2 separate regions of the Homo sapiens genome follow, and region 2 is linked to region 1. The links come from fine-mapping of genetic effects on gene expression. A gene starts in region 1. The other region holds a variant in brackets. All regions are shown on one strand. Distances are from middle to middle. Region 1 holds the start of BCKDHB (branched chain keto acid dehydrogenase E1 subunit beta). Region 2 overlaps BCKDHB (branched chain keto acid dehydrogenase E1 subunit beta).

Evidence for each region. PIP is the estimated chance that this variant, and not a neighbour inherited with it, causes the effect.
Region 2: its variant is the best candidate, but not a certain one, in a credible set for the expression of BCKDHB in whole blood (INTERVAL, PIP 0.52).

The regions. Positions count from the first base shown.
Region 1 is chr6:80,103,778-80,109,170 of GRCh38, reverse strand. It overlaps BCKDHB (branched chain keto acid dehydrogenase E1 subunit beta), which reads right to left and starts at 2,500. Exons shown (of 10, transcript NM_183050.4): 1 at 2,282-2,500. The coding sequence starts at 2,477. RefSeq lists enhancers at 2,158-2,237, 2,204-2,704 and silencers at 2,288-2,387, 2,418-2,617.
Region 2 is chr6:80,205,234-80,210,626 of GRCh38, reverse strand. All of the region lies in intron 8 of BCKDHB (branched chain keto acid dehydrogenase E1 subunit beta), which reads right to left. Among named protein-coding and RNA genes, the nearest start is that of BCKDHB, 100 kb to the right of the region's middle. The variant A/T (reference allele first, on the strand shown) is at 2,859.

The sequences.
Region 1 (5,393 bases):
CCAAAGTTATAGACAGCCAAGGCAAGATCAAACTTAGGACAATCTGATTCCGGGGTCAAGAATTTAACTTGTAAAAGACTTGTAGCATCTCTACTCCATGGAACAGTTCTTCTAAATTCTCAAGAAGGTTATAAAAACTCCAGTGAATTGTAGGATAATTCTTCCGACTAAATAAGTTGTATTTGTATTAAAACTAAAAGTATGGAAAATACGAAACTAAAAGGAAATACCTGTAAGGATACACCCAAAATGTTAGCAATATTTACTGCAGTGGGTGGTGATTTTTGTTTTTTGGTTTTTTGGGGTTTTTTTGAGACAGAGTCTTGCTCTGTCACCAGGCTGGAGTGCAGTGGCACGATATCAGCTCACTGCAACCTCTGCCTCCCAGGTTCAAGCGATTCTCCTCCCTCAGCCTCCCGAGTAGCTGGGACTACAGGCATGCGCTGCCACGCCCAGCTAATTTTTGTATTTTTGGTAGAGACCGGGTTTCACCATGTTGGCCAGGATGGTCTCGATCTCTTGACCTGGTGATCCGCCTGCCTCCGCCTCCCAAAGTGCTGGGATTACAGACGTGAGCCACTGCGCCCGGCAGATTTTTTTTTTTTTTTTTTACTTTTTATCCATTATCCAAATTATCTGTTAATATGTTTGTATTATTTTTAAAATAAGAACAAGTTTATATATATCATGATATATATCATGATAACATGATATCATTTTACTTAGATTTTAGTAAGTTTACAACTATGGAAAGTTGGACTATTTCTCAAGTATTAGACCAAAATTTCTTTGCTTTGAAGACAGAATTTGCTTTGAAGACAGAATTGAGGGCTCATCTTGGTGGTGGAAAAAAAAAAAAAAACACCTACTATTAACCTTTATGGTACCTACTGTTTCACAATACTGGGACGCCCTCCAAGTAAATTATATCTACACGCATCTTAGTACATTGTTTAGAATGGAAGCTCTGGAATCTGATCAATTAGATTCCAAAGCTGGAGCTTTGGAGCTACCACTAACTTACCTGTGTAATCTTGGTCAAACTGTCTCAAGACTCCATTAACCTAACTGCAAAATGGGAATAAAAACTTTACTAACCTTTTAAGGTTGTCCTAACCCTTAAATGAGATGATGAAACATACACACAGCACCTGACCCTGGTAAGCACTCAATAACTGTTCATTCTTATCCACAAGACACACTTCCAAAAATGTCAGCTCTAGCATGCACATGAGAAGTTATTAGACAAGGAAGCAATACATGTTTCCCTACAGTTTCCTGATATTCTGAAGAGAGACACTGGATCTGATATTCTGATGAGAGACATTACATGAAACTTGCAGAAATGGTAAAAATCATGCAACAGTCATACTATGAGGAGTTTGCTACATGCCCTTCCTATGGCTTCCTCCTCTCATCCCCTTCACCTCCTTGGCTAAGTGGCAGCATAGCCCAGGACAAGCTCAGTACTAAGCTCAAGTAGAAAGTCTGAATTCTTTCACATCTCTAGGAAGGACCTGTTCTGTGACCTTGGGAAAATCAGTTCAATTACTCAGAATTCTGTAGGTAAGAAGAAACCAAGGGACATATATACATATATGCATATATATATGCATATATATGTGTGCATATATATATATGCATATATATATATATGCGCACATATATATGCATATATATGCGCGTATATATATCCACACATATATATATGTGTGTGGATATATACACACACACACACACACACACATACACACAATTTCTGTATGTAAGAAGAAACCAAGGGACTGAGTAACTGAATTGATTTTATATACATATATATATTTTATATATAATATATATAATATACATTTAAAATATATATATATAAACATATATATATATCTTTTAAATGCCTCTACCTAAGCTAGTGGCCCAGTCCTGGCCAGGCTGGAACAACACCTAAGGCCTGGGTTGAGAAAGCAAGGACGGAGGACAGAGAAAAGGGAGGCGTTCCCTGGGCACCACCCCTCCACCCTCAGGCTCTTCCAGGTGGCAGTATGCCCTCTCACCCATCTCAAAGTTGCGGGGGAGGGGGGACTGCGTCTCGAGGGCTGAACAGTCACAAAAATAGAGCAAGAAGTGAACCACAGTTAGACCCTGAGGCAAGGAGGTTCCAGAGAGTCAGGAAGTTAATAAGCTGGGATGCAAGGATTGCAGCCTGCCGGCCCCTGCCCCTCGCGGGCGCCTGCGAGCCTGGGAGTCCGGGCTGCAGCGGGACCGAGTGGGCAGTCCCAGGGCTCACCGTACTCCCGGGGCTCCGGATCTGGCTGGAAAGTAAAATGAGCCACCTGCCGCCTCTGGGCCGCATCCTCGACAGTCGCGGCGGGGTGCAAAAAGCCCCGCGCCAGCCCCGCGCCAGGAAGCCGACGCCAGTGCCCCTCAGCCCCTGCCGCCCTGAGCCTGAGTAGCCAGCCGGCAGCCGCCGCTACAACCGCCATCCCCGCTCACCACCGGGATTCTCAGGCTATGCAGCCGCACGCCGCCTGCGGGGAGGGCGGAGCACCCGAGGAGGCTTCCACATTGGTCGGGCCAGAGGGGCGGTCCCATGAAACAGACCAATCGGAACTGGAAATTTAGGGGCGGGGAAGGCGACGTGACGAGCTGGTCGGCTTCTGCTCCTTGTGCGCATGCGGAAGAGGGGAAGTGTGGGCTAGAGGTGGCGCCAATGAAATAGTTTCTGGGGTGGAGCCTCCCCGAGGTCGGCCGTGCGGTCCTCGGGTGAGGACCCGAGTTTGCAAAGTTCCACACAGTGCCTGGAGGCGATCTTTTCCGGTGTCATTTACAGTGCCATTTCCAATGGTTTAACATCCATACTTTTTTTTAAATGTAACCCTTTTTTATCCTGTCCTGTCTCTATTATTGTGTGAGAGGTGAAGAGAGCTACTGATTGGCATTGGTTATTGTTTTGACTTTCGAAAAACTGCTGTAGTCACTGCTCAAAGCTTTCACTCCTTATTCACACCCTCCTTAAAATGCTTAATAAGCATATATAGATTTTTATTGATTTCGTTTTTCCACATTTAAATGAGAGATGAAAGAGGTAAACTTAGATTTCATCCTGCAAATCCACTGAATAGGAATTCAGATACATTTTGCCCAGAAGTAGCAAAAATTACCTGATTGGCTTAGTCTAAGTAGCTTAGAAACCTGGAGAATTTGAGTCACTAATTTTCATTTATAGTAATCAACTATGTAAATTTGTTTTAATCTAAGTGTTTACCAGGATACATTCTCTGTCCATGAATTTACTAAAAAAAAAAAAAAGCACATAAAACATGAAATATCATAAAATCAAATATGACAAGAGACAACAGAGACAGTGTGTCCATCAGATGAAAATGGGAGGGTGGGGAAGGATGGTCCCAAAACAGAATTTGAAGAAGAAAGTGGGAGTGGAGGAAAAGAACATTCCTCTTCCATTATGCCTTGCCTCTTAACCCATCTTTGGTTTTGCACAGGGGCAAGGGAGGAGAGGGTAGAAATGGGGCAAAAGGAGAGGCAGAGAAATGTGTTTTCTGACTGAGATTAAGAAACAGCAATTGAAAACTGCCAAAGGGAGAACCAGAATTATGTCTCCATTTTTCCTACCCCCACACTAAGTCCAAAAATTCAACATTGGGGAAATTTTTTATCTTGGCTTTTGTTAGTGTTCATTTCTGCTGTTTTAATAGTGTGGGGTAGAGTGTTTTGCATGTGCATGAAGGGTATTTTTGTTTTAATGAAGGAAGGGGTAACAAAATGAAATTACATTTACATAGTCAAATTTGGGTTTAAACTAAGGAGAGTAAAGAACAAGGATAAAAATGAATAGAGCTTTTTTTCTATTTGTTGATAGTTTAGGGAGCTGGGGGTACTGAGATTATTTAGGTCGGGGAGAAAAAGAGAAAAATAATAACTGATGAGAATTTTATTGAACCTCTGCTACGTACAACCCAATGACAAGCCACCATTGAGACAAATAAGATCAAGGCATAGTTTTACTTCTAAAATGTCCAAGGTGGTAGAGAAAAGAGACAGATTAGGCAACTACAATCCAATGTGATAGGAGTCCTAGAATAGTGCAAACAAAGTGAAACACAAAAAGAGCAATAAACTCTTATTTGAAAGTCAAGTGTTTCCAGATATAACTCTGAGCTAGACCTAAAAGATGACTAGAAGTTACCAGGCAGACTAGGGAGAAAATGGCATTCCAAACTAAGAAGAAACCTGTATAAAGGCTGATAGGCATGAAGAGCACAGTGCATTCCAGGAAGAGAAAATAGCTTGGTGCTTCTAGATTCAGGGTGTAGGGAATGATACAGGGTTAACAGAAAAAGTAGGAAAAACAGATTAAAGGGAGATTTTGAAGGTCTAAGAGGTTTGAACTTTCAACTACATGCAGCCAGGAAAAACAAACAGAGCACCTGCCAGATTCACCTGTTTTGCAAACTGATTTTTTAAATTTTCCCCATCTCTACCACACCATTTGCCTGGTAACCATGAAAATGTCTATGTTATTACAGTGGGACTTTCCTCCATTCCCCTTGCCCTGGCCACATTTACTCAATTTGGGAAACTGTCCTTTTCTGGGAATTTTGGAAGTGTAGTTTAGAAAGAAAGATCAGATTATCTTTAAATGCCACTAGGAACTGCAAAAAATGGGAGTTTTCAGTAATTTCGTGAACCAGAAAAGGTGAAGAGTGTGATTATATTTGAGTTCCTGATTCCATTTATTCCCAAGGCCTAACTGCTTTCTGGTCCTGGGGTTCTATGAGACATCACCGTATCCTTAAAATGTATTCCCCTCTTTGTTTAAGCTATTTCCAATTGCAGAACCCATGACTATGGAGTTGGAATACAAAGCAAAGTTGCTCTTCACCCTTCAGAATGACTCTTGCATCACTTGCTCTCACTGAGCTTCACTACCTGTGCAACTTGTACCTGTTTAGTCTCAGCTTGCTTTTAGACGACCATTTTATATAGCAAGATGATAGTTTTGCAGTATTACATCCTGGCATCTGCCTCCTTTCAAACTCAAACAGAGGTATCATGGAGGCAGAAAAAAAAGAAATCAAATTATTGCTTTTGAATTTTAAAATAGATTTTAAACTTGATAGCAGAGACAATAATTTGAGAGAAAAGTTTGAATTCTACAGACTGGTTTCTGAGTATTAAACCTCAAAAACCTGAATGAGTTAGGAAACAAAGCTTAGGGCTAAAAGAAAAGATTGTAAATCACATACCAGTATAAGAGATGGTTTGTCTCACCTTCCATGGAGGTACAGCTATAGATTAGAAAGACCTGTAGGTATCCTCCTTTGTAGATGAACCTAGAAAAGTATCACTAAATCCTCAGGCTACCCAGCATGTCATGG
Region 2 (5,393 bases), 100 kb before region 1:
AATTAAACAGAAGATAGTGCTTCTTTTTATTTCTTTTTTAAAAATTTTGTTCAAGTTTAACATATATACAAAAAAGGTGCACCAAATGAGTGTTCGGCTCAGTTTTCAAAAATTTAACCTGAATAATCAGCACTCAGAACAAGAAACTGTTACCAGCAACTCATAGCCCTTACACACTCTTCCAATTATTAACCACTCTCATGATAATCACTAGCCTGACTTCTAACATCATCAATTAGTTTTGTCTATTTTTTACCTCTATATAAAATAAATCATTCAGTATGTACTTACTTGAGTCTGGCTTCTTTGTGTTTATGAGATGAATATACATTATTCCATTACATTTTTAGTTCATTTATTCTCATCGCTGAACAATATTATACTTATTATTGATCCATTCTCTAGTTGATGAGTACTTCGGCAGTTTACAGTGTGGGGCTACTAGAAGTAATGTTCCTATGAACGCTTCTGGTTTTTTTTTTTTTTTTTTTGTATATTTCTTCACATATACACATACAGGATTGGAATTGCTAGGTTATAGGGTTCAGGTAGATACTGCCAAACAATTTTCCAAAATGGTTGTACAAATTTATGTTACCAACAATAGTCTATGAGAGTTGAATTGCTCCACATTATTGCCAACACTTAGTGTACCTTTTCAAGACTGTTACCCATATTTCTATTGGATATTGGTCTTTTCTTTTTGATTGTGTAAGTACTTTATATTTCCAGATATAAGTTTCCTTGAGTTTCTCCAAATCTGTAATTACCTGTTTACTCTCTTATTGGCACCCTTTTGATGAATAAATTTTCTTAAATGTAATGAAGCACAATGTTATCAGCCCTTTTTTAACGTTAGTGTTTTATTAGTGCACAAGATCACATGAACATATTCACCTATGCTTTCTCCCAAGAGCATTATTTTTTCCTTTCACAATTAGATCTGCAACTCAGCTGTAACTGATGCTTGTGTGGTAAGAGTTAATATAATTATTTTTCATAGTACCCAAATGAATCAACATCCTCTATTGAGAAAACTACCTCTTCCTCTCAAAATTGCAAAGTCACCTTTGTCCTGAATCAGATAACCAGCAGGTCTGTTTCTAGACTCTTATTTTATTCCATTGGTCTATTTGTGTATTTTTATACCTATATAATGTTATAATTACTACAGCACTAATAACACATCTCAACATTTGATAATTAAGTCCTCCAGTTTTGTTCTTCTTCAAGATTGCTCTGGCTCTTCTTGGCCTTACAATCCACTAACATGCTATATGCTTCAGTTTATGGGCCTTTAATTTTCCTAAATAATATTCTGTGATTTTCTGTGTAAAGTTCTGACATACGTATCACGAAATTTTTCCCTAGACAGTCCTAATATCAAGAGGAAAGCTGTCAAAATTTCACTAGGAATTATAATTTTTGCTGCAGGCATTTTGCAACTAATCTTCACCAGAGTAAGATAATTATCTTCCATTTCTAGGTTGCTATGAAATTTTAATCATGAATAAATATTGAATTTTAATAAATACTTCTCTTGCACTACCAAGGTAGTCAGGTTTTTCTTCCTGTTTTCTGTTAACATGAGGAATTGTATCAACTGCTTTGTGAATATTTATGAACATTATGTGCTCTACATTTATTTTAAAAGCTGTCTATAATTTTCCTTTCTTATACTGTCCTAAATACGTTTGATATTAAGATTATGCTGGCCTTATAAAAAGAATTTGAAAGTTTTCTCTTTGATTCCACTCTCCGTAAGGGTTTGCATAAGGACTACATTTTAGAGAATTCACCAATAAAGCCATTTAGGCCTGGGGTTTTCTCTGTATGAGAGTTAATAACATTAAATTTAATTTTTTAATAGATCATGACTATTCAGATTTTCTAATTCCTCTTGTATCAATGTTGAATGACTTATATTTTTCCAGAAAATTGTCAACTTTACTCAAAACTTATTTGTAAAATTATTCATAACATCCTCTTTGTCTTACCATTGTCTGTGGGCTCTTCATCATACAAACAAATATTTGTCCTTTGTTTCTACCCTATTTTTTCCATTAGTTAAAAGTTTATCAATTACATTAATCTCTTCAAAGATCTAAATTTTACTTTATTAAATTTCTCTACAGATTCAATTTCAGTAATTTCTGCTCTTAATTACTTCATTTCTTCTACTTTCTCTAGGTTTGATTTTCTTTCTGGAGATGGAAATTCAGATCATTAATTTTTTTAATTCTTATTCCTATTTCCTAAATTTATATATTTACAGCTATAAAGTTTCCTCTGAGCATGGCTTAAGCTGGTTCTTGAAACTTTTGATATATTCTATCTTCATTAACATTCAGTCCAGTTTCTTTTCTAATTTTTGAGTTTCTTCTGTAATCCACGGTTATTTAGAGTAAGGTACTTAATTTGTAGGAAGTCGAGGCTTTTCTAGTTGTCCTTTTCTTTCACTTGATTTCTAACTGAATTCCACTATTGTTAGAGAACATAATCTCAATGACTCCAAGCTTTTGGAATTTTTTAAGGTTATATTTATGCCCCAGCATTTGGCCAATTTTGACAAATGCTACATATTCTATTGATAGTTTGGTGCACAATTAGGACAACTTTACAAATTGCTTTGTTCAGATCTTCTATACACTTCACGAGATTTTGTCTGCTTGATTAAGCAAGATTTAAGAGGGATGTCTTAAAGTCTCCTGCTGTAACTGTGAATATGTTCATACCTCTTCTGAGTTCTGTGTTTTCTTTGTTTAGTTTATGGCTTTATTTATTTTCAAACTATGTTATTAAGGATGAAATAGACTTAGGATTATGATATATTTAAGGTGGACTGGTCCCTTTGGCAT[A/T]ATGAAATGCTCCTTTTCACTTCTAGTAGTCCTTTTTGCCTTAATGCTTTATTTGAAATTAGTGTATCTACACCAGCTTTCTTTTTCCATCCTTTCATTTTCAACATTTTGATGTCCTTATATTTAAAGTATGCCTTTTTTAAGCTACACATGGTGGTGGTAGTTGTTTTTCATGAAGTCTGAGGATCTTAGACTTTTACTAGGTTTATTTAATCTTTTTGTATTTAATTTAATTACTTCTATATTTGGGTTTATATCATCTTATCATCTGTTATCTATTGACCCATCCATTTTTCATACTTATTTATTTTGGATTAACCAAATATTTTTATTAATTTATAGTTCTCTTATTAACTTGCTAGATATGCATTCATTCCCTGTTATTTCAGTTGTTACACTGGAGATTATAACTTGTATCCTTGATTATAACCTAACCAGAACATTACACTTCATAATAATCCTAGAACAACAGAATATTTTAACTCCATGTAAGACCCCCTAGCTTTTGTGTTTTTATTGTCTTACATTTCAATTCCATATATTTAACTTAAACTTCACTAAACTTAAACTTTCACAGAAAATTATGACTACTGTTTCGGATAATCAATACTAAGCTATAGTGTATGCTCTCCTCCATATTTTCTTTTAGAATCATTTTCCTTCTGCCAAAGGGAGCTCCCTTGCAGTACCTTCTTTTAGTGAGAGCCTGCTAGTGATAAATTCTCTCAATATCTGTTTGCCTAAACTATTTTTATTTCATCTTAATTTTTAAAAGATATTTTCACTGAATATAGAATTGTAGGCTAGCACAGTCAGCAATTTAAGATGTTATGCCATTGTGCATACAGGTGTGGTTTTCTTTGAATATAATCTTAAAAGTTAACAAAGCTTGTGTAATGATGTTCTGAAATCTTCATGAGAATTTTTTTTTAGATACTGTTAGAGATTTTCTCTCTCTTCTTTTTCTGGAATTCAAATTGTATATAAGACAGATCTTTTGACCAGATCCCAAATGTGTTTTATCCTCTTTTCTGACTTGTGCTTCAATTTGGACATTTTCTATTAACTAGCCTTCCAGTTCATTATTGCTATCATCTACTGAGTCCGATATGTTATAAGCCTATTCATTGAGTTCTTATTGTCAGATATATATTTCTCTGATGGCTCCACAAAGTTTACTTGATCCATATACATACATGTACACACACACACACACACACACACACAAACTTTCTAGGGTAATTCTCCACCCTCTTACCTCTTTTGTTCCTTATTTTCTCTATGTTCCTAAGCATAACAATCAAGATGTTCTTGTCTGCTAACTCCAATATCTGGATCAGCTGTGCTTCTGCTTTTTATTGTTTCTTTCCCCTTTGTTATTGATCAAATACTCCTGTCTCTTCATCTACTTAGTTTTTTATTGAATGCTGGTTTATAGAAGTTCCAGATAATGAGAGGATTGACTCCTTGGCTCTGCTGCGCAGATAGAGTAAAAGTACATAATTCAATAAAAAATTCAAAGGGGTAGAGGCTGTATTGTGGGTTTGAGATGACCTGGTCTACATCTGGTTTGCCTCTAATTGTAAGACCTAACTCTCCATGGCTTTCAATTGAGAGTATGATGGGTCTTTGTCACTTCATTACCAAGTGATAGCTTCACTTTCCAGATATTTTCTACTTACCTTTCACCATTCACACCTTTAGAATTTGGCAAATAAAAGGTCAAGTATGTGTTTAAATCCCCTCAAAATTTCAATTTTGTCACTACAGCCCCACAAAATATGAGTTCTATATACCTGGATTCTACACACCTGGTTGAGACCAAATAGCAAGTGTAGCCAACTAAAAAGCAGCTATAGGTCATCGGTGTCAACATGCCACTCATTTCAGGGCTTTGAACTCACACAGCTGATTCTCTTAAGCCAATCCACCTACACACACACACACACACACACACACACACACACACACACACACCCATGGCACAGGGTAGGTCTCTGTCTCTTAAGCACTTCAAAACTCAAGAATTTTCTACTGTGCTTTTCAGAAGTCTCCAGCTTAGCTTTTTAATATCAAGTTCAGAATTGAGTGGAAAAACTAGCTGTGGTTTCTAGGACCATTTAAGTCTCTAATTTTTTAACTCCCTTGAGCAACAGTCAAAGACTCTGCTCCTTTCTCTATCCCCGAGCAAATATTTATTTTGGTTTATAACTTCCAAACCATGTATCAAGGATTAAGCAAGAAGTATGAATTCCTCAAGTGTCCCAGAGGCATTTTAGTGTATAGAGTATGATAATGTGTGTTCAACGAATCGTTTTTGCCTTTAATATGCTTTCTTTTCTTGATCAGGCGTTCCAAAAGATATATATTGGGGTTTAGTTGACACACAACGAATAAAACTCAGCGATCTAATGAGTCATAAGACAAAAACAACTGATAAAACACAGCTAATTAAAAGAGATTATAATATAAATTTTGGTTACTATAGAATTCATCAAGATGAATTAAAAAAGCTTCACTCTGGGGGAAAAAAAA